Linked DNA regions of Homo sapiens: regions 2, 3, 4, 5, 6 and 7 are each reported to be linked to region 1. The links are microRNA targets in miRTarBase. Many come from high-throughput screens and were not tested one by one. Region 1 holds a microRNA gene; each other region holds the end of a gene's coding sequence. Distances are from middle to middle.

The links. The annotated mature microRNA hsa-miR-507 reads UUUUGCACCUUUUGGAGUGAA and lies in region 1 at 2,269-2,289, opposite strand. An mRNA with a match to its seed (bases 2 to 7 or 8) in the 3' UTR can be bound and repressed. Matches are read on the target gene's strand: a 7mer-m8 pairs with bases 2 to 8, a 7mer-A1 pairs with bases 2 to 7 and ends in A, and an 8mer does both.
Region 2: miRTarBase lists CCDC39 as a target of hsa-miR-507. The part of its 3' UTR that is shown has no 7-base or 8-base seed match.
Region 3: miRTarBase lists COLEC10 as a target of hsa-miR-507. The part of its 3' UTR that is shown has no 7-base or 8-base seed match.
Region 4: miRTarBase lists BCL7A as a target of hsa-miR-507. Seed matches in the 3' UTR shown: 7mer-m8 at 580-586, 7mer-m8 at 1,242-1,248, 7mer-A1 at 2,160-2,166 and 7mer-A1 at 2,792-2,798.
Region 5: miRTarBase lists PAQR3 as a target of hsa-miR-507. The part of its 3' UTR that is shown has no 7-base or 8-base seed match.
Region 6: miRTarBase lists NWD1 as a target of hsa-miR-507. Seed matches in the 3' UTR shown: 7mer-A1 at 1,778-1,784 and 8mer at 2,440-2,447.
Region 7: miRTarBase lists GPC4 as a target of hsa-miR-507. The part of its 3' UTR that is shown has no 7-base or 8-base seed match.

What each region holds. Positions count from the first base shown.
Region 1 is chrX:147,228,734-147,233,583 of GRCh38, forward strand. It overlaps MIR507 (microRNA 507), which reads right to left and starts at 2,344; the gene lies at 2,251-2,344. MIR506 (microRNA 506) reads right to left here and starts at 2,110; the gene lies at 1,987-2,110. The region is part of intron 2 of LOC105373347 (periphilin-1); the gene reads left to right.
Region 2 is chr3:180,612,243-180,615,756 of GRCh38, reverse strand. CCDC39 (coiled-coil domain 39 molecular ruler complex subunit) reads left to right here. Exons shown (of 20, transcript NM_181426.2): 20 at 680-1,749. The coding sequence ends at 836. It also overlaps a transcript of TTC14 not described here. Among named protein-coding and RNA genes, the nearest start is that of TTC14, 12 kb to the right of the region's middle.
Region 3 is chr8:119,104,742-119,109,591 of GRCh38, forward strand. It overlaps COLEC10 (collectin subfamily member 10), which reads left to right. Exons shown (of 6, transcript NM_006438.5): 6 at 1,059-3,714. The coding sequence ends at 1,450. Among named protein-coding and RNA genes, the nearest start is that of COLEC10, 40 kb to the left of the region's middle.
Region 4 is chr12:122,058,710-122,063,559 of GRCh38, forward strand. BCL7A (BAF chromatin remodeling complex subunit BCL7A) reads left to right here. Exons shown (of 6, transcript NM_001024808.3): 6 at 383-3,335. The coding sequence ends at 454. It overlaps LINC02985 (long intergenic non-protein coding RNA 2985), which reads left to right and starts at 4,581. Exons shown (of 4, transcript NR_135044.1): 1 at 4,581-4,822. RefSeq lists a silencer at 4,194-4,488.
Region 5 is chr4:78,916,918-78,921,767 of GRCh38, forward strand. PAQR3 (progestin and adipoQ receptor family member 3) reads right to left here. Exons shown (of 6, transcript NM_001040202.2): 6 at 1-3,764. The coding sequence ends at 3,622. Among named protein-coding and RNA genes, the nearest start is that of PAQR3, 20 kb to the right of the region's middle.
Region 6 is chr19:16,814,522-16,817,521 of GRCh38, forward strand. NWD1 (NACHT and WD repeat domain containing 1) reads left to right here. Exons shown (of 19, transcript NM_001007525.5): 19 at 507-3,000. The coding sequence ends at 518. The region is part of intron 2 of LOC124904648 (a long non-coding RNA gene); the gene reads right to left. Among named protein-coding and RNA genes, the nearest start is that of SIN3B, 13 kb to the right of the region's middle. RefSeq lists a silencer at 2,959-3,000.
Region 7 is chrX:133,299,267-133,304,116 of GRCh38, forward strand. It overlaps GPC4 (glypican 4), which reads right to left. Exons shown (of 9, transcript NM_001448.3): 8 at 3,900-4,075; 9 at 837-3,803. The coding sequence ends at 3,601. Among named protein-coding and RNA genes, the nearest start is that of TFDP3, 83 kb to the left of the region's middle.

The DNA.
Region 1 (4,850 bases):
TTGCTGAAGGCAAAGGGAATACAAAATGGGTAGTGAAGAAAAGTAGTTGTAAATACCAGCTAACACCAGATGACAGTTACAGAAATGAGAATTGTAGTTCCCATGAGTATTTTCTACTTATATTTTTATTAATATACTTCTGTGTTTTCTTGTCTCTCTTATCCCCTTATCATGTAACGTAAGGTGTACTGATATTATATCATAGTTATTAACCGTTGTTAACTTTAAATAATCATAGTATTGATGTTATGGAACACCAAGGAGAAGAGTAAACAAACAACACTCCAGGACTTTATCTCCTCTTCTGGTGAAGTGGTTCATGAATTCTGGGTTGTATAAATGGTAGTTGTATCTTATTAAATGAAATTATGACCTTGGTATTTTTCTCATTTGATGATTAAATATAATTTAAGGAGATGCGTATAAGTGACAACATGACAAGGAGTGAACTTGTGATGATTAATTCTATATTTCAACCTGACTGGGTCATGGAGTGCCCAGACATTTGGTCAGTCATTATTCTGGGTGTTTCTGTGAAGGTCTTTTTGGATGACATTAGCATTTAAATCAGTAGAATGAGTAAAGCAGACCACCCTCCCTAATGTGGATGGATGGGCCTGCACCAATCAGATGAAGGTTTAAATGGAACAAAAAGGCTGACTCTCCCCTAAGTTAGAGAGAATTCCTCCTGCCTGACTGCCTCCAAACTGGGGCATCTCATTTTTTTCTGGCATTGTACTCAAATTAAAACATTAGCTCTTCCTGGGTCTCAAACCTGCTGGCCTTTGGACTGGAACTACAAAATGGTTTGTTCTACTGCTTCTTTGGCCTCTGGACTTGGACTGCAACTATACCATCAGTTCTCCTGGGTCCCCAGCTTGCTGACCCATCCCCCTGCAGATCTAGGAACTCACCAGCCTCCATAGTTGCCTGAGGTTATTCCTTGCAGTATCCTTATAATAAATATCTTAAGGGATTTATTTTAAAAATAGACTTCTATAATAATTATATACATATATATTTGCTCAATCATTGTCCTGGGTGTTTCTTTGAAGGTCTTATAAGACCTGATCCAGAATCTGAGGGTGCCTGGGGTACCTGTGAAAAGTATGTCCTGTAGGTTTTTTAAGCATTTATTCCTTTTTCTCCACAAAAGGACTACAAAACACTGGGAACAAGATTTGAGGTAGGAACATGATCCTTTTTCTGCATCCTTTTCCTTTTTCTGTGAATGTCATATGTATGTGTGTGTGTGTGTGTGTGTGTGTGTATATATATATATATATATATATATATATATATATATAAAGGGATATATAAACCCCTTTGTATATGTAAAGTTTCCAGAAGTATATGTACACACATGTTCATACATATATGTTCTCATCACTTCATCCGTTCCCATAATAGTTAAGACCAGCTAAAAACATATAAATAGTTCAAATGAAAGCAAATTTGGGGTATCATATCAAACTCCACTGATATGAGATTATCATCACGGATACACAGGAATATTAAAGGGAATTTGAGTGTATCTAAGCCTTGAGGAGATCACTTCATAAGAAAGATGGTTCATGGAGTTTGGAGTTCAGCAGGGAAGGGCAGGAGGATATTTGTGCTCCCTAAAAAGAAGGCTTAAATATTGTGAGGAAAGAAGATCAGTGTAAACTTCTCAGGGGTTTATAAGGCAAGAAGTGTATTTGGGTTGTTATAGAGAGAAAAGACTAAGAGGTACAAGAGAAAAAGAAGTATCATGTTCCTACCTCAAATCTTGTTTCCAGTGTAGTCAGTCATTTTGTGGAGAAAAAGCAATAAATAATTGAAAAACCTACATGAGAGACTTTTCCCAGGCACCCTCAGATTCTGGAGCAGATCTCTCAAGAGGTACTTCAGAGAGTACCTGGAAATGGCTCATCACTAAAGGTTGGGTACCAAGGCTCAAGGGAGGGCAGTATTGTCACTGAAATTCCACTCGTCATTACCAATGCCACCACAAATGTTGTCCATGTTGCACATTACTCTACTCAGAAGGGTGCCTTACAAATATTAATCTATTAAGTAACACCTTCCTGAATAAGGCACTACACATAGTATGGCTGATGGTGGTGGCACTGACCATCTTAATAGTAACACGGGGAAACTACAGATGAGGCTATTCCCAGAGAACCTCATCCTCTAGGTTTTACCCCACAGAATTCTCTTTAAAGGGTTGTATGAGTTGACCCATCACTGAGTGGGTAGTTCTGACTTGTATCTGTTGTGCATTATTTCACTCCAAAAGGTGCAAAACATATTTCTAGACACATGCATGGCACTTCTTGAAGTGAAGCACTACACACAGCACAGCGGAAAATGTCCCTCACTCCGCCATTTCAGTCAGAATCCCAACACTCTCAGTCCACTAGGAATAAGCAGAATATAGTCAATAGATTAAAAAAAAAACAAACCCTTTTTCCTCTCCCTTTTGTCTCCTATGTCTTTCACTGAATGCTTATTAATTACTTCACCTGCTGCACATTTAATGAGACAGATTTTAGGAGAGAGAAAATTTTCCCTCTTCCTCCCAGACTTAGCATACTTCACTAAATTGTTCTGCTAATTTTCAATTTAATATAGTTGGCACATGAACAACTACTTCATATGCCTCAAAAGCCAGTCATTACATAGAAAGGACCACTCAAGTGACTCATCATATCTAGCGATTGCAGGCCAGATAGAGCTCAGTTGAAGCAGTGCTGGAGAGTTCTCTTCTTTCCAATTTGAATCTTCTTTATATCATTGGGGCCTTGGTTTGGCATCCTCTGTTCAGAGATGAAGGCCTACAGCAGCAGAAGCAGTAGTCACCACAGTCATGCACTTGCAAACCAGTGTTTAGACCAAGAAATATCTGCAACACATGTGAACACATGCATGCCACACATGCAAATAAACATGTGAACAATGAAACAAACAACCCCAAAACGAATGCTCACAAAATAGGGCAATGCAAACACAAAGACAAACACTGCATGATCTGACTCATACGCAGAGTCTAAGAAAGTTGATCTCATAGGAGTAGAGAGTAGAATGATGGTTACCAGAGTCTGGGGAAGGGAAGGGAAAGGGGGGTTGGGGAAAAATTGGTTTATGGGTACAGAGTCACAGTTAGGAGGGCTAAAAGTTCTGATGTGTTATTGTGCAGAAGAGTGATTGATTATAGTTAGTTAACAATATTTTATGGTATATTCCAAAATCACTAGAAGAGAGGGTTTTGAATGTTCTTCCCACAAAGAAGTGATGGACGTTTGAGGTAATGAAAATACTAAATCCCTGATTTGATTATTACACAATGCATGTATGTATCAAAACATCTCACTATATCTCATCAATATTTACAAATTATTATGTGTCAACTAAAAAAACAATAAAGGAGTAACAATTTTTTTTTTGAGACAGAGTTTTGCTTTTGTTGCCCAGGCTGGAGGGCAATGGCACAATCTCAGCTCACTGCAACCTCCGCCTCCTGGGTTCAAGCGATTCTCCTGCCTCAGCCTCCCACGTAGCTGGGATTACAGGCATGTGCCACCAGACCCAGCTAATTTTCTGTATTTTCTGTAGAAGCAGGGTTTCACCGTGTTGACCAGGCTGGTCTTGAACTCCTGGCCTCAGGAGATCCACTGGCCTCGGCCTCCCAAAGTGCTGGGATTACAGGCATGAGCCACCGTGCCCAGCCGGGAGTAACAATTTTTAAGAATGTAAAAATACTACTGAAAATTCTAATTAACACACATTTAAAAACACCATTCAAAATCGGAATAAAAAAAAACACACAAAATATACAAAACACATCCAAATATACAAAATTCTACAGGAAACAAAAACCCTAAAAAAGCAAACAAGCAATACAATAACAAAAATCAAAAAGAACATACACAATACAAAAACCCCCAAAACATAAAAACAAATACACTAAAATGTAACTTTACTTTCCAATAATCCCAAACAAAACAGAGAACGAAGTTCAAAGGAAATCTAGCACGTATCAGGGATAGACGACACTGCACTGAGAAATGCTGCGAGTGTAGGAAGGAGAGCAGTGGACACTGAGAAGTAAACAGATGAGGTATCATAATAAACAATGATAGAAAACAAAGTAGAACAGTTTCCCACCTCTTCACTACAGCCTGTATTTCCTCATGACTTTGGGTGAAGTGAGGTATTTGGCCACTGCAAAAACAAAATCCACACACATCATCAGTTGCCAACTAGACACCAAGAAAGACATGATTTGAAAGAGCTTTCCTGGGAGATAATGTAGCAGCAGACTATCAAATTCTATCCCATCCTCTGATATGGACATGTAACATTTACACCTTGCTTCCCAGGTCGTGCTTCCTGTGGGCTCCAGGAATTGGTTCTCCCTCCCCCTCTACTTTCTCCTCCCCCTCCCTCCCCTTCTCCTTCTCTCTCCCTCTTCCACCCTCTCCCTTCTCCCCTTTCTCCTCTTCCCCTCCCCTCTCTTTCTCCTTCTCTCCTTCTGCCTCTCCATACAGATATTTTTATATCAAGGTTCATAGCTACGTCTTTTCTAGTAGTCAAAGCCAAAATAGCTATAAACTGGAGACAAATGGCCATTAACAGGTGAATGCATTTAAAAAAAACTGGAATATCCATACAGTGGAATACTACTCATCCATAAAAACAAATAAATTATTGATGCAAATAACAATGTGGACGAATTTCAAAATAATTATGCCAGGAGAAATAAGCTAGGCCAAAATAAACAGTATATACAGTATGATTCCATTTTAATAAAAAATTTTGGCCAGGCACCGTGGTTCATGCCTGTAATTCCAGCGCTTTGGGAGGCT
Region 2 (3,514 bases), not on the chromosome of region 1:
ACATTCTTGTGCTTTGCTGACAAAAATTTATTAATAATGATCCTGATTTTAGAATTCACAATCTCCTGCATTCAGCAGCTACTTATTAAATTACTATTCCTTAGTCCAGGTAAAAATTTCATGAAGAGGCCCCTAAAAAAAGTGTTTCATTTAAGTATAAAAAACTGTTTCTATATAACTGAACATCCCTGTACTTTCATAAAATATATATTTAAAACTTTTTTCAGAATTATATAGCTAGCTGTTTTTCAAATGACCCCACCACTTTATCCATCAATATGCTTCTCTCTTCTCTTCAGCTTAAATTACAAAAGGTATCATTTTAATTATTTTTGCCAGCACCAAATCCTCTTGGCCCTATTTCCTCTGTTTTGGAAACTTTCAATGCTTAATGATTCCAACTCTAAAAAACTGATTATAGTTCAAAGCATTTTTACCATGTAGGAACATACTTATTAAACTACTTTTCTACTGGTTTGAAACTCATCTATGTTCATCTTTCCTTTCCTGTTTAAATTGTTTGATATCTATTGATGGTCATTTAAAAACTTAACACTATTAATATGTACTTTTTTGATGTCTTTACTTATGGAATTATGGTACCTTTTGCCAATAATGAGAGGGTCTATACTAAAATATAAACTTTGCATTGAATTTATAATTCTGGTTTTTCTTCTAGGTCATCTAGGAGTACAAGTACATCTACTTCTCAGTCTTCAATTAAAGTACTGGAGCTTAAATTCCCGGCCTCCTCTTCACTAGTAGGCAGCCCTTCTAGGCCATCTAGTGCTAGTAGTAGCTCTAGTAATGTTAAGAGCAAAAAGAGCAGCAAATAAACATTTTAATCTCTTCTGAAAAAGTTGTAAACACAAAAACAAAAATATACTTTAAAATACAAAACGACCCAACACATTTTATCTAGTGGAAAGTGTAAAAACTTAGTGGTAAGTGTAAAAACTGATAGTTTTAAAAAAAAAGGAACGTTCTCATTTTCTCTACTGTTTTCTTCATACTGAAGAAATTAATAGCAGATTCTTGACAAGGCTACATGTTATACAAGCATAGGAAAAATGCTGTATTTCACTGTAATTCTGATGTTCGTAGTGTTAGAAAATAGTTTGCTTCATTATTTCACGAAACTACACTCACTTCTAATGTAACAATCTTTCAAGAAGAAATTTCTAAAGATTTACTGTACTATTATGAGCGTATTGCAATGTGAAAATCTCATTTACCCTACAAGACACCAAAATTAGGTTTTCTTTATTCAAAGTAACTATTTCTCAGACTTTTGGGGAGAAAAATTGTTAAAGGCAGTTTCTTCTTTTGCTATAATTTTTAACCAAAAAATAGCATCAACCCCTACCCACCCCACCCCCCCAAAAAAAAACCGGTAAGAGAAACACTGTATATCAATTTTAAAATGCAGCATAAATTTAGAAAAATCACTTCTGACCTTGAAATAAATCACTTCTGACCTTGAAATAAACGCATTAAAGATTTGCTTTCAGATACAGCCAACCAAGTATAAACAATTTTGAAATTTTCTTGATTTAATAAACGATTTAATGAAAGCTAGGTATGACTTGATTTGCAATAGAAATTTCATTTACAGTTGGAGGTAGACTGCCAAATGTAGTAGTTTTTCCAGTTAACACTTCATTATAACATGTGCCCAACACTTTGTACTCTTGGAATAGAGTGTGGAATATTATAAAACTGGATTTTAAATAAATGTATTAGAATTCACGAATGTACATGTGTCTCCTTCAAACCTTGGGAAAAAATGCTCATTACAACTGTCATTATTTTAGAACTGTTGTTTGTACTTCTTTCTGAAAAGCAGTAGTGGTAGTGAATAGTTCTCCTGATTATTTTTTGTTTTGTTTTAGAAATAGGAAAAAGGCATAGCAAAGTCAAGAATAAGGTGGGCGAAAAAAAAGGTAGGTAATAAAATTTTTGGCTAAAGTACTGCTCTAATGCATGAGATTTATAAGACCTAAAAACTAATTAAAGTCACTTTGCTCATCAAAGTTCTTATTCTCAGCCCTGTGCTAGTTTGGGAATTACTTAAAACTTGAAGTAATATTAAACACTCTTCTATGAAGGTAGAGGTTGTATCTTACTAGCTCTGTAACCTTGGATAGTTACTTCCCTGTTTTCCTCATTTGTACTATAGACACAGAAAGTTACCTACAAGTTTACCGAATTTGATAATATAAAAAAGATGCACAGGGCTTGACACACAGAAATTGCACTATATAACTTCTACTTACTGAGTTGCCACCTGGAGCTTAGCACAGAATTTGTGGAATGGTTTGGTTCTTGGGCCAGCATACGAATCTACATTTAATCCTTAAATAACAGTTCTAACAACTTCAGTGTAGTAATGACAAATGGTGCGACAGGGGATCAACCTATCTCCAAATCTGGACACTTATCCTCATATCCAAAAGTCATGCTTCATCTGCTTATGGAGACCAAGATATGGCAATATATGATCTTGAGAAAAATTACTGAAGATGTCGCTATTCTTGACAATGTAAATCCCCAATAATTTTTGCTGTGATGAACTTCCTTAGAAATTGGTTTGTATACTCTGCTTAATATGGCATAAACTGCAATTACTTTTGCGCCTACCTAATAAATTCAGGCAGCCTACAGGATAAGGTACTATTCTCTTACATTGAATGGGGTGTAATAGCCATTCTGACTGATGAGAGATATCTCATTTGGTTTTAATTTGCATTTCTCTAATTAGTGATGTTGAGTATTATTTCATACGCTTCTTGGCCATTTTTATCTCTTCTTTTGAAAAATACCTATTCATGTTTTCTGCTCACTTTTGGATAGGGTGATTTGGTTTGCTGAATTCCTTGTAAATTCTGGATGAGTCCCCTGCCTGATGCATAGTTTGCACATTTTGTCCCATTCTGCAGGTTGTCTGTTCACTGTGTTATTTCTTTTGCTGTGCAAGAACTTCGTAGCTTACTTAAGTCCCATTTTGTTTTTGTTGTGTTTAAGACACCAGTCTGGCTGTCACCCAAGTTGGAGTGCAGTGGCACAATCAGAGCTCACTGCAGCCTCGAACTCCTGGGCTCAAGCGATCCTCCCGCATAGCTGGGACTATAGGCATGCACCACCACACCCAACTTATTTGGATGGAGTCATGCTGCGTTGCCCAGGCCAGTCTCAAATTTCTAGCCTCAAGCAATCCTCCTCCCTCAGCCTCAAGTGCTGGGATTACAGGCATGAGTGACTGTACTCAGCCCCTCTTGCTTCCACTTTTGAGGTCTGAATCATGAATTCTGCCTACGCCAATGCTGGTAGGTTGGCAGGGGGGTAAGGGATGATAAATTATGAAATGGGTACAATGTACATCATTTGGGTGATGGTTACACTAGAAGCCCAGACTTCACCACTACACGATAGATCCATGTAACAAAAATGCATGTGTACCCCTTAAATTTATATGAATTAATTAAGGAAAAAAAAATTTTTTAAATGTTGTGTT
Region 3 (4,850 bases), not on the chromosome of region 1:
CTAACCACACTAATTATAACTTTGGTTGTAATCTGTACTGAAGATTCTGTCTCTGATATGACTTAGACTGTCATGAATAAGCCAGATCATACAGGGAGAACATAGAGCAATAGTTCTGAACATTTTAGTGGTCATAGATTTATTTGTGAATTAAAGTTATGGATCCTAAAATGCCTATGTAGAGGCCGCTGACACCCAAAACATACATGCCATATTATGAGAGAAGGGTGATTCTCAGTCTCCAGTTCTGTCCTGAAGCTAACTCAGTAGCTCAGTCTTCCTCTTGTACCTGGGATGAAATATGGACAATCCCAATTCATGTACATGTTCACAGCCCAGGAATTTGGTCCAATGTGGACAAACATCTGTATTATTCCTGCATCATTTCAATAAGCATTTACCATTCCCATAAGTATTCCAGGCACTGAAGCCAAAGAGTGTCAAAGACATGGTCATTGTCCTTAAGACATTCACAGGTAAGTAGGAGAGAAATGCAGGCAAACGATGAGACTAAAATGTGTTGAGTGCTAGAAGGAGGAAGTGAAAGGGGCAATGGAAACTCGGGAGAGTGACTGCCATGTCTATCCAAGGGCATTGGAAAGACTTCTTATAGGGGAAAATATTTCCACTGAGATCTAAAGGGATGAGTAGAAGTTTACCAGGTAGAAAAGACTTTCTAGGCATAAAAGGCTTGGAAGTATAAGAGAAAAGGGCCTGCTCATGTAGCCACCAGTATAGCTAAAGCATAAACTATGTTGGGAAATATAGTATGAGATGGGCTGGCTGAAAGTTCATGTAACATGTCTTTGTCAACTTTGTGCTGGCCAGGTGTGTGAGAAGTTGAGGAGAAAAGGAAGGGAGAACAAACGGTAGATATGTGTTCTCTATTTGCTAACTAGAGGTGGGGGTAATTAAATCTGTGACTACCTCATAATAGGGCTTTGAAAAATAATTCTTGAATATTGAATAAATAAATGTAAATCTGGCAATATCATATAATTTTGTTGCCTTTTATCTTTTTGAGATACGTAATGATACTCCTTTTTCTCTCCCTGCAGTGATAGCAGGGATTAGGGAAACTGAAGAGAAATTCTACTACATCGTGCAGGAAGAGAAGAACTACAGGGAATCCCTAACCCACTGCAGGATTCGGGGTGGAATGCTAGCCATGCCCAAGGATGAAGCTGCCAACACACTCATCGCTGACTATGTTGCCAAGAGTGGCTTCTTTCGGGTGTTCATTGGCGTGAATGACCTTGAAAGGGAGGGACAGTACATGTTCACAGACAACACTCCACTGCAGAACTATAGCAACTGGAATGAGGGGGAACCCAGCGACCCCTATGGTCATGAGGACTGTGTGGAGATGCTGAGCTCTGGCAGATGGAATGACACAGAGTGCCATCTTACCATGTACTTTGTCTGTGAGTTCATCAAGAAGAAAAAGTAACTTCCCTCATCCTACGTATTTGCTATTTTCCTGTGACCGTCATTACAGTTATTGTTATCCATCCTTTTTTTCCTGATTGTACTACATTTGATCTGAGTCAACATAGCTAGAAAATGCTAAACTGAGGTATGGAGCCTCCATCATCATGCTCTTTTGTGATGATTTTCATATTTTCACACATGGTATATTATTGACCCAATAACTCGCCAGGTTACATGGGTCTTGAGAGAGAATTTTAATTACTAATTGTGCACGAGATAGTTGGTTGTCTATATGTCAAATGAGTTGTTCTCTTGGTATTTGCTCTACCATCTCTCCCTAGAGCACTCTGTGTCTATCCCAGTGGATAATTTCCCAGTTTACTGGTGATGATTAGGAAGGTTGTTGATGGTTAGGCTAACCTGCCCTGGCCCAAAGCCAGACATGTACAAGGGCTTTCTGTGAGCAATGATAAGATCTTTGAATCCAAGATGCCCAGATCTTTTACCAGTCACACCCTATGGCCATGGCTATACTTGGAAGTTCTCCTTGTTGGCACAGACATAGAAATGCTTTAACCCCAAACCTTTATATGGGGGACTTCTAGCTTTGTGTCTTGTTTCAGACCATGTGGAATGATAAATACTCTTTTTGTGCTTCTGATCTATCGATTTCACTAACATATACCAAGTAGGTGCTTTGAACCCCTTTCTGTAGGCTCACACCTTAATCTCAGGCCCCTATATAGTCACACTTTGATTTAAGAAAAATGGAGCTCTTGAAATCAAAAGAAAAAAATGGGGAATTGTTCACAAACAATACTGGTTATAGTTCTCTTGCTAAATTGCCCACTGCTATTAACTTAACTTCATTTTTATTTATCTTAGGTTTACCTGCATCAATTTTATTCACCTTAGGCATAGGGAATGAGGGAAGGAGTTTGTGAAGCCTTAAGAAAATTCTGGAAGCTTCAAAGTGCTACCAACATCATCTCCAGGCCCCCTCATCCTTGCCTCTAACATATCACTAATGGTGACATTTCATGGGAGGCCTTTTACTCTTCATAAATATATGTCATAGAAATCCTACTGGAGATGTCCCTTCTAATACTCTGGCATCACAGAAATGTGTGAGGCACAGAATTCGGAACATGCTTAGAACTCACATTTACTGAGCTGGTAAAATTCTACCTTGAACTGTAGATCAAACCTCAAAGCAGCTTTCACTTGGAATTTAAAAATAAACAGTTCAAAGATACTCTAGATTATCACCCTATAAACTTCTACTCCAGTTATGGTTTCTGACATATGATTAGACTGTTTCAAATGCTGGCAAAATGGTTAATGAAGTAAGAGAAACAGATCAACAACATATGTTCACCTTAAACCATCTGTTCATGATTTCACCCGTGACTAACTGGTTATGAGATAGGACTTAATTAGGTTATTTCTGTGGGTTCAACAAGGGCCATAAACTCAGATCCTACAGGGGCCAGGCAGATGACTTACCTAAATGAAGTGGAACACGTGGGGACCCTAGTGCACTGAGCACAGCTTGCCCTTCCAAAGGAGCCAGCTGCTCCTCAGTGGCTGCTGCTGGTGCTAGGGAGGACCCAATCTTGCTAAATGTGCTGATATTTCAAGAGAAGTCAGAAAGCTGGGACTTTGTAACATAAGCTCATATTTTAATATGTTGGCAACTAATTAATTTTTAACCCAAATTTTAAGTGGGTTAAAAATTAATTAAAATTAAAGATTTGAGGTCAAAAGTCTTCTAGCTAAAGTTGTGATCATTTCATTTCTTACTTCTGGAGGAAGGTTCAGAAGGTTCTAACCAAATAGAATGTCATTAGGATATGATGACATGAAAGTCAAGATATCCCATTAATACCATATTCAATTCAGCTTAATAATAGGAATTTGTTATATGTTTGACATTTATCAGGTTACTAGTTAAACTCTTTTGAGATGATAGTACATGACACTTTAAAGGCAGAAAAGCTTAATAAAAATTACAAAGTAGGACATCAAACGCCAGTATCCTTGGATAGAAAGCCATCCCAGATCATGAGGAATGAAAACCTAGAAACACCTGTAGGAAAATAAAGCTCATATGTAAGAAGAGAGGAAGGAGAGACATGCAGCAAATGTTGCCTACGGGCAACTTCATGTTAAGGATCCATGTTCTGATTTGTTCTAAGCCCCCAAAGTATGAGTATTTATTGTGTGCACTGTTAGTGCTATTATTATTTACTGTGAATGTTATAATAATAGTTCTCTCAATGACTCATGTTGTCTGTGATGCTTCCAAGAGAGATAACAGAACTTCAACAAATAAGTTATATCCTGCAACCTTGCCTGAAAGAAATTTTGAAGACACCACACACTTAATTAAAATTACTACAAAAACTCAAATTTGTGAAGCACGTTGTGCTTTAAAAAATGCCTTCACATATCAATTTTCATTTGATTCTGATAAACTCTGTGAAGGACGAAAAACAGTCATTTTTACTGCCACTTCCCAGTGATACTACTGAGGCCCAAGGAAGCTAAGCAATTTACCAAAATCAGCTCACATATAAATGAATGCCATTAGCCTGCTGATTGAAACTGCCAATGCAGTGTCTTCTCCAATTTCTGTGCATTGCTCATGTATTGAATGGAAGTTCATCCACAATGGTCTTGTGATAGCAGGGGCTCAAACAACTTATCTGTACTACATTCCAAAGTTAAAGATGAGGATTAATTAACAGAGATGCTGGATACAGCAACTTGCCTTACAAATTTAGTGTTCACTGTTTTGTTTTTCAATTCACAAACGTCCACATAGGCATTAGTGTTGAGGAGGTGACTTACGGCAGCCACAGTACAATTCTGCAGATAACTAGAGTTATAGGGCAATCAAAGCAGATACATAAAAATCAATTTTGTTAGTCTTTTCAAAATACCAGCTCCTCAATTCCTGGACTTTTTGATGGGTTTTTCATGTCTCTATCTCCTTCAGTTCTGCGCTGATCATAGTTATTTCTTGTCTTCTTCTAGCTTTTGAATTTGCTTGCTCTCACTTCTCTAGTTCTTTTAATTTTGATGTTAGGGTGTTGATATTAGATATTTCCTGCTTTCTCCTGTTGGCATTTAGTGCTATAAATTTCCCTCTAAACACTGCTTTAGCTGTGTCTCAGAGATTCTGGTATGTTGTGTATTTGTTCTCATTGGTTTCAAAGAACTTATTTATTTCTGCCCTAATTTTGTTATTCAACCAATAGTCAGTCATTCAGGAGCAGGTTGTTCAGTTTCCATGTAGTTGTGTGGTTTTGAGTGAGTTTTTTAACCCTGAGTTCTAACTTGATTGCGCTGTGGTCTGAGAGACTGTTTGTTATGATTTCCATTAGTTTGCATTTGCTGAGGAGTGTTTTACTTCC
Region 4 (4,850 bases), not on the chromosome of region 1:
AATCACCCTAGCAATGAATCATAGATGGGAAGATTGATAACAGCAACTTCTGGTCCAGTCTGAATGAGTGGGGAGAGCCTAGGGTCCAAGGCAGCAGTGTAGGAAATGCTCCCGAGTTACCAGCCATTGGCATGTGATAGGGTCAGGCAGGGGCCAGGGGACACCGCGCTCCATAGCTCCAGGAAGAGTTTGGGTGTGAGGGTCTCCATAGGTCCTCAAACTCTCTGGAGTCCACGCTTGGGCCTCGGGTCTGGAACTGCTGGTCTGAACCACAAAGCCGCCCCCGCTCGGTTCCTTCCTTGGCTGACCTTCGGCCTCACGCCTGGCCTAACTTGCTCTCCTGGCCCATTAACCTGTGTTCCCCTTTTCTCCTCTCCCCAAGGATTTGGAAGGAGTGCCACCCTCTAAAAAGATGAAACTGGAGGCCTCTCAACAAAACTCCGAAGAGATGTAGACGATGCTTTAAAGCCTCCGATCCATGTTCCATGGAAGGTACATCAGCAATTAATTCTAGAGCAACTTTGCCCCAGCGATTCCTCTTGGGTGCGAACAGAACTACTAACGTTTCAAGTTTACCAAGTGCAAATCCAAGAAGACCCAGAACGGCGTCACTTCTCAGACACTGAAGAACTCTGCTGTGAAGCAAAACACTCAAACCTTTAAGGGACTGTCCTTGGGGAGGCAGGCGGGGCTGACAGCTCAGGAGTGTCTGCACACTGTCTCGGAAGCCAGGATTCCATTTGTGTTGCTGCTGTATTTTCCCCCCACTTCTCTATGTAACGATATAAGCTATCGGAGGGTGGTACCGATCAGGAACGCTTTTTGGCGGGGCTTTCCACTGTTCAACCGATTCCTTCCGCTTTCTTTTTTTGTGCCTTGTGCCCTTGAGGTGACCTCTGGCATGTATCCTGGTGGTTCTTACATCCCCCTCTGCAAAGTGCCCTCTTGGTTTGGTTCGGGCGGCGGCTGCCACCCTACTCACCGCTCTCCTCCCTGCCCCAGGACTTCATCGGAGCAGGCAGGGTGGAGCGAAGGAGCTCCTTAGCCCACCTGGTTTGCAGGTGCAGGGGGACCTTAGGCACGCCCCAAGCACCAGGCACCAGGGCCCAAGGACGCGCAGGTGTTGGGGCACAGTCCCCAAGGGCTCGGCCCCTTGGATCAGGCTGGGCACTCGCTGTGCTCTCCCCTCCTTGGGGCGTTTAGGACTGGGCGTCTCCAAGCCCACCATGGCCCAGATGGACGTGCAAAGCCCTTGGAATTTTCTGGCACTTCCTCTCTATTGCCCCCACCACCACCACCCCCATCACTGCTTTCTCCCAGACCTCCGAATACGAAATGGCTTCTCTGGCTGACTGCAAGGCTGTCTCCTTAAGGCACTGAGTGGGCCGGGGAGGCTGGGAGCCGGCGGCAGGATTAGCTGGTGCTGAACTTTCTCTCATAGGACGTCGCTTGGATTTCAAATCCACGGTCACCTGCTGCCCTTTGCCTCCCCCGACGCCCCAGCCTGTGCCCCGGAGAGGCAGGATCGCAGTGGTCAGAATCCACGTGCTTTCCTATTCTCAGGCTGTTCTGACTCTGAGCCAACAGCTGGACCGTGTCTCATCCCCAGAACATGCCGTCTGTCCCCACCGGGGAGTGGGCCTTGATGGCCGGGCCTCGAAGGCCACAAACAAGGCGTCGAGGAATTGGAAAGATTTGCACACCCTCCAGAAAGGAGAGACGCAATCTCCCCTCCCTCCCATCCCCCACCTTCGCTGGAACAGCTTCCTCTCACTGAACGGAGACGCCCCCTTGGACGAACTGCCTAATCGTTTGGTTCTGAGGCCTGGTTTGCTCTTAATTAATATATGAACTCCTCAGACCTTAAACCTTTTCCTAAGCTTTCTTTACTGCACTGGAGTTCTGACTCCCTTTGAGTTGTGTGTTACTGGGGGTGGGGTGGGGTCATGGGTTTTGTTGTTTTTGGGGGCTAATTGGTGCATATTCAGGTACCACCTTTGACGTGTGGCTCTTTCTCCTGACCATCATGGGAAGTGTCTGCTGGATTCCATTTTCTAAGAGTTTCTGAGGGTGAGGCTCTTATTTTTTTTTTTAAGGGATCCTGTCTATTTCCTGCACTTCGAGAAGAATCAAAATGTTCCTGAATTTCAAATACCTCATGCAAAATGTCTCCTGAAATAAGGGAAAAAAAAAAAACCACAACTTTGAAAATCTTAATGTTGAAGTTAGCAATGCCGAAAGGTTTCTGTCTTAAAAAAAAAAATCCTTGTACTTATCAATTTTGCCCCTTAGGCAGTCAGTTTTGTTGAGAACTGTGTCCTGCATCCTGGCGCAGAACCTACCTGATGCGGTTCCTCTCCACGCATCTCGAGGCGGCGTTACCTCCAGATTCCGTAGAGTTAGAGTCACATTTTTCTTTGCAGCGAAACTCCATCTTGGTGAGAGATGAATTTGGATATTTATTTCCTTCTCTGTTTTTGGGAAACGAGAGGCTACAACCAAGACAGCTGAAGGAGAATGAAACACACACATCCACAGAAACAGAGAGGCGTAGGTGGCCCTGCCGTTGACCGCAGCCTCTCTGGACAGGCAAGGGGAGTTGGCGCAGGTGAGGACTCAGACGACGTCCACCGTCCCAAGGCTGTCACTAGTATTTCTCTGAAGTGCCTGAAGGTAGGAATGGGCCGGCGATTGGGACCAGCTGGGCCCCACCACGGCCACGCCAGGCAAAGCGCCAGCAGCCCTGCACTCCACGCTGGCCAAGAAGGCCTTCCACGCAGAATGACAAGACTGCAAAAATCCGATGTGCTTCCTTCCCTGGCGCAGTCGCTCCTCGAGCCGCTGCCCCCCACCCACCCTGCACCCCTCGCCCTCCCCCCACCACAGAATCTAAGACCTTTCAGCTTCGAGCCAGGGGGCGGGGGATCCCGAGCAAAAGCCTTCCGTGGACATCAGGCCCCGTGGCCTCAAGGGCTCCCAGGGCAAACCTAATTCCCCCCAAAACGTGAAGTCGGGGAAGCTGCGGCTACACATTCCACAAAGTGCTGGCACTTACACCCACAACCCGGAAGGCTGTGGACCGATTCCTCTAGGGTGGTGACCTCCCATTAGCAAACGGTGTCATGGTTTGGAATGTTCATTATCGCCAAGAACCTGGTTAGAGGCATAAAGACCTTTTTTCACCGTTACCTAATTTTTTCCCCTTTCAAGAATTTTTTTTTTTTTTGGTGTGTTGTACAGCAGTATAATTTTTCACTTATTTATTCCATCAGTAGATATGGTTTGTACAATGTACAATTGTTTCATTTCAGAAAATAAAAATTTCAAATCATGAATACCTTGTGGTTTTGTCTCATTTTAAGTAAGGTCAGATCGATGGTGACGGTGTCCCTCTCCAGCTGCTCCGGCCTCTCTTGCTTGGCCGTGTGGCCCTGATTCTACAAGACACACAAGTTCCTTGCACACAGGAGCTGTTGCCTTCCATAGTCATAAGAGCTGCCATTATTAAGCACCAGCTGGATGCCAGGCAAGCCACTAGTTGCTCCTTTCTGTGGGCAGGTATTGTTGGCCACCTTGTGCAGGTGAGAAAACAGCAGGACAGTCCCCTGCAGGGCTCTCATGCCGGGTCAGGCCCCCAGGTTGAAAGCCACACCTGAGGCCAGGCGTGGTGGCTCATGCTTGTAATCCCAGCACTTTGGGAGGCCGAGAAGGGCGATCACCTGAGGTCAGGAGTTCGAGACCAGCCTGGGCAACATGGCGAAACCCCGTGTCTACTAAAAATAGAAAAATTAGCCAGGTGTGGTGGCACACACCTTTAATCCCAACTAGTTGGGAGGCCAAGGCAGGAGAATGGCTTGAACCTGGGAGGCAGAGGTTGCAGTGAGCTGAGATCACGCCACTGCACTCCAGCCTGGGTGCAACAGAGTGAGATTCTGTCTCAAAAAAAAAAAAGCCACACCTGATCCGCCTACCCCGAGACCTGGGTTCCAGCAGGGACATGTTTTCAGCTTCCCTGTCTCTGAGGGGACTCTGGATTGTGGTAGGGACTCAGGGGCGTTAGTGCATGGGTGGACTGCAACCTCGGCTTGACTTGTCCTAACAGCCTCTAGTGACTTACATGGTTGGGCTGGAACCAGACCTTTCCCAGGGCTGTGACCCTTTCAGCCCAGACTCCTTCCCCCACGCTGACTTCCCCACCTCTGTCCAGCGTCACCTGGCCCTTGGGTCAGCCCCTAAAGAGAGCTGGCAGGGGTGGGGGTGTTGTGTCAGCGGGTCTAGGCCAAGCTGCACTGCGTGGACCGGCTGCAGGCAGATGCTCTCTCCTGTTTGTTCTGTCTGACTCTCCTTCCTACCCGTTCCTTTTTAACATGTTCCAGTGTTTTTACCAGAATTGGCTGCTCAGCTAAATAAACTCCTGATATGGAAAGTTCAGCCTGACAAAACACAAATCATAGAGGCCTTGTTTGCTTAAGGAAAAAAAATGCCTGAGCTGGCACACGTTCCCGCGCTTCCTTTCTGCCCTCCCTGCGTGTCTGTTCCCAGCTCTCACTCTCTGGATCGGTCCCTCCCTCCTCTCTCTAAGGCTTCTGCCCTTTCCCCCTGCCTCCCTTGTCTCCACCCGCCTAGATCACTGTCTCACAGTCATTCTGTGGAACTTCCTCTGTGTCTCTCACTGGAGCCGCCTAACTTCCTCTCCCACCTCCCTTCATCAAGGAGCAGTCTCATGCCCAGGAGCTAGAAATGTAGGCTTTGCCGGCATTGGTTGAGCTGTGCTGGGCCCTAGGCAGCGATGACTCAAACTTGACCCTTAACCCCCAGGCAGGTAAGTGAGCCGCAGTGCTTTACGATGC
Region 5 (4,850 bases), not on the chromosome of region 1:
GAAAGGTTCATCCTATTTTTATGAATTAACTTTTTCTGAAGTTGTAACATTTATCTAAAGTTATGTGAAAAAAAGGGGCTTTGTATCTTTTTAATGAAAATGAATGGTACAAAGCAAAATAACACAAATGATTAGAAAAGTTCTATTAACAAAGAATAGTTTGCAGTGTATTACTGTTCAAATTCAGTTATAGTTACTTGAGATGAATATATGCTGCAATTTGAGCTATTTATTTTGGATAACGAATACCTTTTTAAGGAAGCCCAGGTCAAGCATCATATGTAACATGTAGTTAATATTCTCATATTGAAAGCTTGAGCTTGTATTTGTTGTTACATATTAAATGAGATAGTTCAGATGGTTGTCACAATTGAGATTATGTGCAGGTTAGGTAGTATTTTGATCTCAGATTTTATAGAGCAGGACTAGAACCTTGGTGGCTGTTCATTTCAGCCCTCTTAAGGATGGAGGTTAATTTTTCACAAGAAACCCCCTACTGCTATTTACCTCTCCCTTCCAAAAATGTTTTCTTAAGGGTAGTTTCAGTTCTGGATCATTATCTCATTACACTACTTGGGAATTCTGGTACAAAATTTCAGAGGACTGTATTTACACCTCTTTAGTGTAAACACAGTTATTGTGATAATGCACACAGAAGGTATTTCTACCCCTTCTCTAATAGGTGAGCTGATTCTTTACACACTTGGGCAGAAGTAGAATTCCCAGGAATGATGATTTACAGTGGACAGGGACCTAATGCAGCAAAGCAACCAGCAGGAATTCACAGGAATAGGCTTTGCCCCTTGACATTTAATACAGGGCAAAGTATTATCTAGTAGGTACCTGCCAAATGGAGAGTTGTACAGTTTTACGGAAGTCAATCACAATCTTCAAATCGGATATTCTGTCCAGGTGGGATGCCATAAGATGTGACAGACATTCCCTGAATCTTCGTTCCTGATTCTAAAATATGATTTTAAAGCTGTTATGTATTACAAAGAATGACAAGCAGCAGTTAAAAATATTTAGTAAACCCAGTTTATTTACATAATACATATTTTGTCATGCAGCTTACTGAATTGCAGTTAGTGTAATAACAAAAAAAGACAAGCACTGTCTTGCTATTTGAAAATGGCTTAATATAGAAAGATAATTGTTTCTTAAATGAGTTAACCACAACCATATAAATTGCTAGACAATTTAAAACAGCCATAGATAATTTTAAAATGTAAAATCTGTAGGCAAAAAGCTTTTATAGTTCACACATTGGTAAAATTAAAACCAGTCTTTTTTAGTAATAAAACTGGATAGTATATTTTAATCTTACTTTAATCTATAAAAACAAAAATAACTTAAATATACATCATTACAAGGCTCAGATTTGTAGACAACTTTAAAATATTTTTTAATGTTAACAATGTCTTCAAAATTTTACCAGTAGTGCTGTGCACACAGTAGGTGGTCATTAAATGCTGACTGACATACAGAAGTGTTTCTAGTTAACAGCAATCCATATTCATTCATTCATTCCCTATTTTATAATAAATATATCATAGCAGTGAAAAAATGAGAGGATAACTTTCTTACAATATTTAACATTTTCATACAGAGTTGAAATGTTTACATGGAATAATTTTCCCTACAGAAAGACCTGTACACCCTTTAAATTCAAAGAAACACGGATTTAAAAACACAGTATACTCTTTTCATGTTATTAATTCAAATGGCAAGTATGTATTCATATACTAATACAGGGACTGCAAAAATTGAAATGATTCAATGTTTTTTTATTTTGAGAAAGTTTTATAATAAAAATGGCTCCACACCTAAAATAATGATTTTCCCCTCATTTTTAACTTAAGTGTAACTACTCAGTGTCTTTTGTTTGGCCAAAATGACAAAATATCTATTAAAAGGCAATAAAATCATGTAAGCCAATAAGGGATGTTCTAGGAGAAATATATCCTACTACTGTTGCACCAAAATCTTCTATCACTTAACATATGGATCAAAATTTTAACCTTATAAGGTAAAACAGCCATTTTCAAAGCAGCCTTCCATCATAACGATGGGTAAGACACGGTATTCCTTTACTGAGCCTCCTGGGGGGAAATTCTCTTTGCTGAGATACTATACTAGCATGGGGAATTTATATTCCAAAAACACTACACTGGAAAAGAAACACAACATTTTACTGATGTATTAACTGAGGCACATTAGTGACTTTCCAAGTATCATATGCACAAAAGGCATTTTGGGAATAAGCTTCATCATCAATTAACATTTTTTCTGATATTCAGTAATTTTACTGTTCTGAAAATACACCAGTATTTAAAACAGCTCATGTCAACTCATGAAGAAACTTGGGTAATATTTTATACTCCAATAAACAATGTAAGTTTTTATGAATGTCTACTTTAAGGGATTTAACTAATGCATATGAAAGACCAAAGAATAAGAGGGCTACAATGTATGATAGGGCAGTGAGTTCTATTTTTTAAGTATATACAATAAAAAGAAAGTTTAATGCTTCAGGCCCAAATATTAAGTGTTTATCAAGATTCTGAGTTATCAATGCAATGCTAACACATGCAGAAACCGAGGACCAGAGCACAGGTGAATAAGATTATTATCAAATGGGGCATCTGCATGACTTTGTTCTAAGGCTTAAGGTTCATTTCAGGGTCAAGACAGGGCCATCTAGATTCTATGGCCTTGCAAGTAGCACCCACAATGCTGGGAACCCCCACCACTGGGATATTCAGGACTACAAATTCAGAGAGTTGAAAGCTCTGGAATTTTGGGATCAAAAACCTGTAATCCACTCACAAGAATTCAGTTATTATATGGAATTAAATAATATCTGGAATTAAAATGTTTAGGTGGCTAATGACTATATTATTTGACCACATAATTTGTTGTCTAATCTTGTACTTAGTTTCTAATGTGATTCTTATCTGATAGAAAATGAGAAGTTCTTTTCCTCTTCTCAACCCTTCTCTCAACTTACTGCAGAAGTTTAAAGCTTTTGTTCTGGAAAACTAAAATATCTAATGTTCTTAGGGAGAGAAGAACCTATAGCTAAAGGATATAATATCTGAAGTGCCAGTTTCTCACAAATCATTTTAGTGATTATTTAAATCTAGTGATTTTAGTGATTATTTAAAATCACTATCCTAGCTTGCATTAAGCATAGGCTGAAACAACACTTGCCTTGATTAGGCACTTAAACTTGACAATTAACTGAAAATAATTAAGCACATAAGATGACTCCATTTTCTAATGGACATGAGCCCTTCCTAAGGAAATTAAGCTGGTGCTAAGTAAAATGAATCCTATTTCAACACTAGTTTCCCATTCATCGTTGTTATTCAGATGTTTCTTATGATTGCCAACTAATTTTCACTTTCTGTACAAGCAGCAAATTAGTAGTTTTAAGGATTTTGTAAAGCAGTTATTACTACAGATCCTTAAGTATACTTTTTTTCCCATTTTTATAAAGCATTACTCATATTAAAAAGGAAAAAGGGAAAACTAATGGGAATCTTAGAAATAGTGGGGTATACAATTCCCCATTATATATTGCTTAACAACTGAATTCACCAGGTGGCCATACCTAATTCACAAATGTGAAACATAGTCAGGACAAGGCTTGCTATGTCTGTACTGCATGACATACACTGTTGACTGATGCCACCAATATAACATCACTACTGCAAGGATATGCCATATTTGGTGGCTTGATCCGAGGTAGTTTAGTTGTCCTGGAAAGAAGGTAGAAAGAAAATGATAATGATTTCAATATGTTGACATTAAAGGAAAAATATATTTCTTGGAAGTATAGCTTAGCAGAAAAATTTTCATAGTCTCAGAGTGCCTAGAGACTAACTGGAAGCTCCAAACGTTTTTAGAAATGGATCAATTCATATTTGGGTCTAATTTTAAGGTTTTATTTATTAAGTACACAGGTAAACTTTAGAAATGCTATTCCAAGTGTGTTTTCAAAATCTAACTTAATTTCAGGAATTTGACCTTATGCCTCCCACATCTCAACTCACATTTGATGGAATGAACAACAACAAAAAATTATTGAGAGAGGCAAAAGAAACCAGATGTTAAAAATCATGGTGTGATTTAGGTATAAATCCGCGAGAAGGAGATATACTGCTGGGTTTAGATATAAACCTATTAGAAGCACTTTTTATTTCAAGCAGGTGTGCAAAGAAAAAGTGCTGACCTGAATTCTGTGCTCTCTAACTAATGGAATAATCTGCAGGATGTAATTAGTAATGGATTAATTAACTAAGGTTGTTTAGTTCATATACAACTTAAGAGAACAATTTAATCTCTTTGTGGTCAAATGTTAAATTCTGAGAAGATTAAACAATTAACATACGGAAAACTTCTTGATCTCTCTCAGTAAATAAAATACAGAGCTATAATAATTTCAATGTAAATAACATACTCATGGTGCTTCTATGGTCATATAATGTAAATATTCTCTAACCTCTCTTTTTTCTTACCAATCAGTACAGTACATAGATTTTAAAGTGTATATCAATAAGATTCTTAGCCTTTTTTGTACCATGGACGCCTCTGGCAGTCTAGTGAAGCCTACAGACCCATTTTTTTAAAAAACAAAACACAGAGGATTACAACAAATATTGATTATCTAATACAACTATCAGAGATCCACTCAATTCTATCCATGGACACCTTGGGGACCCTTGGACCCATCAAATGCCACTGTGTTGTGTATACATTTTTAAACATTCAACCTGAGCTGAATGAAAGCTTTTAGTTTAAAATTTATTTTATTTCCCAGTGGCCAGGTCATACATGAGGACTTG
Region 6 (3,000 bases), not on the chromosome of region 1:
GAATAAATATCAGGTGGAGCCTACTACATTGTAGTTGAATACACTGTAATCTGATACATAGTAAACTATAACACTATTATACATTGTAGTATAATATGCTGTAGCAAAGATATATACAACTGGTATAAAGTTACAGATGGCTCAGAAGATGAAGGTTGAGGACTGTGGCCTTAAAAGCCCATCCTGGGCCAGTTCACAACCTCTCTTCCTTCTCCTCCTTCAACAATAATATTTACTGAGCTCACTCTGGGCCAAAAACCTACACTAAGCACATGACCTGCATGATGCCTTTCAATCTTAAAAATCGCCCTGAGCAGGTGTAGGTTCTGTTATCATTCCCATTGTGCAGATAAAGGAAGAGGGACTCTTTGGCATAATAAATGTCATGCCAAAATTAGTAGAGGGCATAGCAGGAATTTTATTCCATGCAGCCAACTCTGGAATGTGTAGGATTGGACCTCTACACCCCATTTTTCTCATTTGTGTCCTTCTCTTCACCCTTACAGGCACCCTGCTGACAGTCCAGTTTGTCCATGCTGTGGTAAACAGAATCATCCCAACCACCAGTGGCTTCATTGCCCCCACCAGGCATGGTTATCTGATCCGAGAGAATTTCCAGTGCCTTTCAGCAAAAGCCTCACCGCAGGACCCTCTTAAGAACTTCAAGAAGGCAATGTGGATGGTCAAATCCAGGCAGAGAGAGGAGCTAGTTGCAGCTGCAGGAGCTCCCCAGGACTTGGAGTCAGAAAGTGCCCAGGGAAATGAAACCAAATCAAACAAATGCTCACAAGTGTGCCTGATAGTGTAAAAAAATAAAAATAAAAAAACCCTGTGGGGGTATGGGGCTCCAGTGAGTTAGCCCCATTTAATCTAGTTAAAGCAAAAAGAATACGTTTGCTGGTGTATATCTGGACCCATGGCTTCAGATTATGGCTTCAGACCTTGTCTCTTCTCATCTTTCCATTATTCTTTCCTCTTTTTCATTTTCATTCTCAGACTTGCCACCCCCAGGTTAGCAACATGGTGGCCAATATGCTGCTGTCTCCAATTTCAATAGAAAAGAGAGCTTCTCTTTCCCAACAGTCCTAGCCTCAACTCTACTGGTCCCAATTGGCCCATACGCCTAGCCCTAAACCAATTATTATATCTGGGAGAATGCAGAGCTCTAATCGGCTAGACTGATCCAATGTCCACCACTGGGACTGAGAATAGAAGAGATTACTCCTGAGATGCAAACTGGAGTTCTGGTACCAGATGAAGGGGGAACGGATGAATGTGAGATACAGCAAATCACTGATGTGGACCACAGAACCTCACAGTTTATAAAGCTGTAGGTGCTGTCATCTGATCCTCATCACAACTCATACTTTAGGGAGGGCAGGAGTTTCTGTATCTATTTTACAGATGAGGAAACTGAGCCTTGCGGAAGTAGTTATAATTTGATTCAGGTCACAAGTCCAAGGTGCAAGAGCTCTGAGAGTGAGCCTTCTGTCCCATTCCTGTTAGACCTCACTCCAATTTCAGTCTGCAGAGCACAACCATCTCTTCCACAGGCACCACACTCAAATGCTCACAGGAGCTAGTGACTAATCTAGACACTTCCATGCACCTGGGTGAGCAGCAGGGAGAGACAGAGACTGGACATGTGGAAGGCAGAGATTGTGTCTAGGGTGGGTATGAGCAGCCTGACTGTAGCCCAGAATCACCATGGCCAAACAAGCCCACTGCTGTCAGTGCTTCCAGTTGTAATAAGCAAAGCCAGAAATCCAGACTTTTATGCAAAAATGTTCTGACTTTTAAAGTTGGCGATTGGTTGAATTTATATCTATAGTGCATTTGGCATGTGCGTCTTTGGTTAATGAGCTGACTTCAGGACTCACGCTGGCAGTAAAACAATCAACATGTTATAGTTCATCCCTCTCTATTCCTTGGCTCCCAAACTTTTGGGATAAAGATGTGGGTTTTTAATCTTAAAAACTGGAGGCTCTTGGAAGTAGAAAGAGCTGCTGATCTCTCCCTGCTTTGCTTTTGAACTGTCTGCCTTGTGCAAGTTCAACAGTCAAACTGTTTTCATTCCACTTAAGTGGATCTTTCTTCTTTGCCCACAGCCTTCTAAAAGCCCTTCTCAGTCTTCTCAGGCTTTTACTTTAATGCTAGGATAGTCTAAATCTTCAAGGTGGCTATCCCTTCTCCCCTCCGTGGAATTCCTGATAGAGTCTCAATAAAAGCAACCTTAGAAACAGAGGCTTTTGAGCTGAACAAGACCCTACTGCTGTCTTATTCATCCATTTTCCAAACCAGTTTTCCAAGGCAGGTTTTGGTAGTTCTGCAAATGTTAGTGTCAAATTTCATTTAAAAATATTTTAAACTGTAATTTTAAGATGTATGCTTGGATGTATTGGGCAGCAGCTTCTAAGGTGTTGAAGATTACTAAGGTTGGTGCAAAAAGTAACTGTGGTTTTCGCCATTAAAAATATTAAAAATAATGGCAAAAACTGGCTGGGCACAGTGGCTCACACCTGTGGTCCCAGCTCTTTGGAAGGCCGAGGCAGGTGGATCACCTGAGGTCAGGAGTTTGAGACCAGCCTGGACAACATGGTGAAACCCTTCTCTACTAAAAATACAAAAATCAGCCAGGCATGGTGGTGAGTGCCTGTAATCTCAGTTACTCAGGAGGCTGAGTCAGGAGAATCACTTGAACCCGGGAGGCGGAGGTTGCAGTGAGCTGAGATTGTGCCACTGCACTCCAGCCTGGGTGACAGAGCAAGACTCCATCTCATAATAATAATAATAATGGCAAAAGCCTCGGTGGCTCACGCCTGTAATCCCAGCACTTTGGGAGGCTGAGGCGGGTGGATCACTTGAGGCCAGGTGTTCAAGAGCAGCCTGGTCAACATGGTGAAACTCTGTCTCTACTCAAAAATACAAAAATTAGCCTGGTGTGGTGACGTACACCTGTAATTCCAGCTACTTGGGAGGCTGAGGCAGGAGAATGGCTTG
Region 7 (4,850 bases), 14 Mb from region 1:
CTTGAGCCGGAAGGCGGAGGTTGCGGTGAGCTGAGATTGCGCCACTGCACTCTAGCCTAGGGGACACAGGGAGCCTCCGTCTCAAAAAACAAAAAACAAAGCAAAACAAAACAAAAAAAACCCCACAAACAAACAAAAATCAAACAAAAACGCTACCTTTTATATGACAAAAAGGAGTAAACTTCTATTCATATTCGCTTGTATATGCATAAATAAACTTTGGAAGAAGACATACATAAGTAAATAGTAAGAGCTTACTTGAGGTGTGGGGACAACTTGGCAGATGGAAGCAGGAATGGGAGGAAAATTCACTCAGTCTCTTGATGTATGTTCTGTTTTTTAAACCCTGTCAATATATTACCTAATTAAAAACTAAGTACACAAGTAAATATTACTTGGCATTTGGCTCATTGATAGAATAGAATTCCTGTTACCAAATGTCATCTCTCAGGTATTTTTCACATATATAAAAAGGAATTTTAGAAGAATTTTAGGAGTCAAAAATTAGAAACTGAGTTTGTGAAGTGTATCACGGTATGCAGTTATATTTTTTCCCATGAAGTTCAAAGTCAGAAGAATTTTGAGTACTTTGTTGTTGTTTCAAAAAAGGTAGAAAGTTACATTTGGCTTAGCAGTGACATTACATGTGCATGCGCGTGTGCGTGCACACGCACACACACACACACACACCCTCCTCTAGTAGATAACTGTTAGTATTTTGCCATTGAAAGTAATGGCAAAAACTGCAGTTACTTTTGCACTAACCTAATAACCTACTACCCTTTAGCTATGTAAATAGACATATTCTGCTAACAAAGGGGAAGCAGAAATTTGTGTAGCACCATTCATACCTATTTTTATTTTGATTCTGTAATCACAAATGACAATTTTTACTTCATGTGAACTGTTAGGTTTTGAACACTCAGTAACTAAACTTTAGAAATTTACGTCAATTCTTCGCAGTGTCTTTTAATCAAAATAACAGGTGCTAGTTACGATTTTTGAAATAAAATATAAATCTAAGAGTTGTAAAATCTTTAAGGTACAGAGTAGGTGATGTGTTTTAAAGAAAAATAATTTATAAATGACTTTGTAAAACACAAGCCCTTCACATGCTGTTAACTTTGGAAAAGTCAGGTCTTCTCCTAACAAGGCTTTTATTCTACTTCATACTCCAAACTCTTAAGGTTTTAAAATATTCAACTTGCCTTTCTTCTTTTTTGGGGAGTGGGGGTGAGCTTGCCAGCTGCTTAGAAGCCAAGAGTTATCCAGTCAGACCTGAATGGAAAAATCTATGATTTGTTTATTTCATAGTTGAAGTTCAAAAGCAAGAGACAATTTAAATAATAAAAGAGTAACAGGAAAAAATGCAAAGAAAGAAAACAAATCAGTAAGAGTTCAGAAGAACCTTCAAGAATACTTAATTTGGAAAATGTTATTGGTTTAGAGAATTTGACTGGAAGAAAACAGCTGGGCAGAGTTCAAGGTTTTAAATTAAAAACAATCTAACAAGGTCTATGGGGATAACTCTCTGAGCCATATTTTGGAGACCAGATTCATTTCTACCAAGTAAAAGTAATAGCAGTCTAAGCTAAAAAGGAAATTCCTCACAACTGAGGTAGTTACTAAGTATCAGCACATTTTCCAAGTTCTCACAAGGCCCCTTAGCTATTTACAATCTATTTTCCCTTATATATAAATGGAGTGCCTTTTCAATTTTATGTCTTCTGATTTGTTTTAAAAAAAAAACCACTTATACACACCAGCCAGAATATGCCTATTTTATTAACATCATGCTTTAATAAATAACTGGCTACTTCTAATAAAATTAAGCCTCTGTTTACAACAGCCCCCAATATTCCATTTTGACCACTCTGCAGAATTTGGTGTAAAAAGTTGAATGAAATGTAGACCCTGAGCTATCAAGTAATTATGTTTCAATATAAAAATAGAGAATTACTCTTACAACTGAAGATTGAACAATAACACAAACAACCTCTTTGTGGGTTTTAGGTTCGGTAAAATTAGTTGGGATCTTAATGGCTGTCTAAAGCAGGAAGAGACAGAATTTTAGTCTTTCTGAAGACTTCTGGGAACTCCTTTGAAAGTGATTTGTTACATTATCAGAGTTTTATGAGCTATCATTTGGTAAGGACACAAGGAAGGGATTCCCAAGGCAGTTGTTAGTCTTTGGCCTGGGACAACAGATATGGCCATGGCCTTTGCCACTTCACCCACGTGGCTAAAGGTCACCACTAAGATGTAGTATTCTCAGCTCTACCTACTCCCACCCCACCCCATCCCCCAAGAAAAACAACACATACAAAAATCTGGACACCTAGTTCTCCCCTAAGTGGGCTCCTTGGCTGATATCTTGGATCGTAGCACATTGCTGTGAACCATGGCAAGTCCTTTGTTTTACTGATAAGAGGGGGCTAGGTAAGAAAAAGACTCAAATGAGACACCTTATACTCTCTTAAAACAAAAACTGGGATCCCAAAACAAATGGAGATACACATGCACAGACAAAAACTTTGCCCGAGTGTTGACAGCTATTCCCTGAGCCCAGGCTGTACCCCAGTTCTGGCTAGCTCTCAGACAGCTCCCTGTACATAATTGGGTTTGAAATCTCGACCACTCTAACAAAGGATATTAATTCAAATAGGGTCAGTGTGAACATGAAAACTAGCACAGGGTGGGCTAGCTAACCTGCCTGGTTTTAAAAAAAAACACCCCTAAACCCAAGTGTGAACATGTGATAACTGGGACATCCTGAATGCTTTCTATCTTTCAAGGGGGATGATATCCAGAATCTTTTTCTAAATGGGTTACATTTTATGTATAAGTGGGTTCAAGAAATGGACCTATAGTGATCTTAGCTTATGTAATTCAACTCATTCAAAGCAGTAGTCTGCAGTCTCTTCCAACTATCACCAATAAATGAAGTACACATAACCTCCTTCTTGGATTGATGCTTTGAATACAATCTGACAAGTGGCTCAGAAGCCTGCTTGTGCCCTCACATTCTGTCTTAATAATAATTTAAAAAAAAGAAAATCACCTCCACGTCTCTCCAGATAAGGCAACTAAAATAACAGGGAGAAATGGAAATTTTACTGCTTTTTGGGCTTTTTCTTTTAATAAGATAACATGATAAATAAAACCTGCTTCTGTACAGCTATTTAATATTTCAGAAATACGTACATGTTACGTGCCAAGAAGGGACCCTGGTTTGCTTGTAAGAAACAAGGCGAGATCACAGTTGGAAAAAAAAACCCACAAACGAAATGAGAAAAAAACATACAAACAAATAATAGAGTGATAAAATCACAAATGCACAACTAACTATAGTTCTGTACCTACACTGTTAGCCACGTTTAACATGGTTTGGGGGAGCAGGAACCAACTCAATGCACAGTCCCTTTTCCTCCCAAAACTGAATGAGAAAACAAAGTCAGCACTTCTTAAACCAGTGGCCACATAGTAAAAACTGTACATTGTTGTCCATTCATTTAAAAAGCAAAGTCACTAGGATGGTAGAAAAGTGATAACTGGTGCCTTTTAACTTTTTGATGAACACTTTTTCTCAGAGTTTGAGAATTATCTCCACTCTCTCTGCATAACCAGGAACAAGATGCAGAAGACAGTGAGGAGGTAGGCCTGTGCCCCAGGACGGACACCAGCACTGTCGGCTTTCTCATTGGCACTCTTCCCAGCATGGTCAGTGGCATTGTAGTCAAACTCTGAAGGGCACTGCTGATACTCACAGCCACTTCCACTTCCTTCTCCACTACTTTCATCACCTAGTTTAAAAAAAAATGGAATAGAAATTTCATTCCACTTGTTCTCATCAGAAGACATACAAGAGCAATTCGTACTTTCAAACCACAAATGCTTACTGATATCAAAGAAGTCCACGTCGTTCCCATTGTATGCATTCTTCATCTTGCTGGTCATCACTCGAAGAGCCATGATTTGACGAAGGATCAGTATGTCTGGTTTGCTGGTGTCAACCTGGACCTCTGGGTTGTTGCCCTGGTTGGCTAATCCATTTCCTGTCACTGCAAACAGGTACCTGGAATGTAAAATGACCCCAGTAAGATGATTCGTAAAGCGAAAAGATTTTATCTGTCTGCCTCCCAAAGTGCTGGGATTACAGGCGTGAAGATTATGAAGATTATACAAGAGGTTATCAAATACTTCTGCTAGATTCTAGTATTTCCACTAAGCAAAATTAGATGGAAGTTCTTTAATTCCTAATGAACTCTAATCTTTCTTGTTCCTGTGGATTCCTCATTTCTCCAATTTGATGGAAACCTTCTTCAAAGCTATCACAGCACTTTTGGAGGCTAAGGTGGGTGGATCACTTGAGGTCAGGCATTCGAGACCAACCTGGCCAACATAGCGAAACCCTGTCTCTACTAAAAATATGAAAATGAGCCGGGTGTGGTGGTGTGTGCCTGTAATCCCAGATACTCAGGAAGCTGACACAGGAGAATCACTTGAACCCAGGAGGCGAAGGTTGCAGTGAGCCAAGGTTGCACCACTGCATTCCAGCAGCTGAGATTGCAGTGAGGTTGCAATGAGCCAAGATTGTGCCACTGAATTCTAGCAGGGTGACAGTGATACTCTGTTGGAGGAAGGAAGGAAGGAAGGAAGGAAGGAAGGAAGGAAGGAAGGAAGGAAGGAAGCTAGCTATCCCTCTTGAGGAGGATGGTGGGTTGAAGTAAAGAAGTATGGGTACTGGCTGGGTGCGGTGGCTCACACCTGTAATCCCAGCACTTTGGGAGGCTGAGGCAGGCGGATCACAAGGTCAGGAGATCAAGACCATCCTGGCTAACATGGTGAAA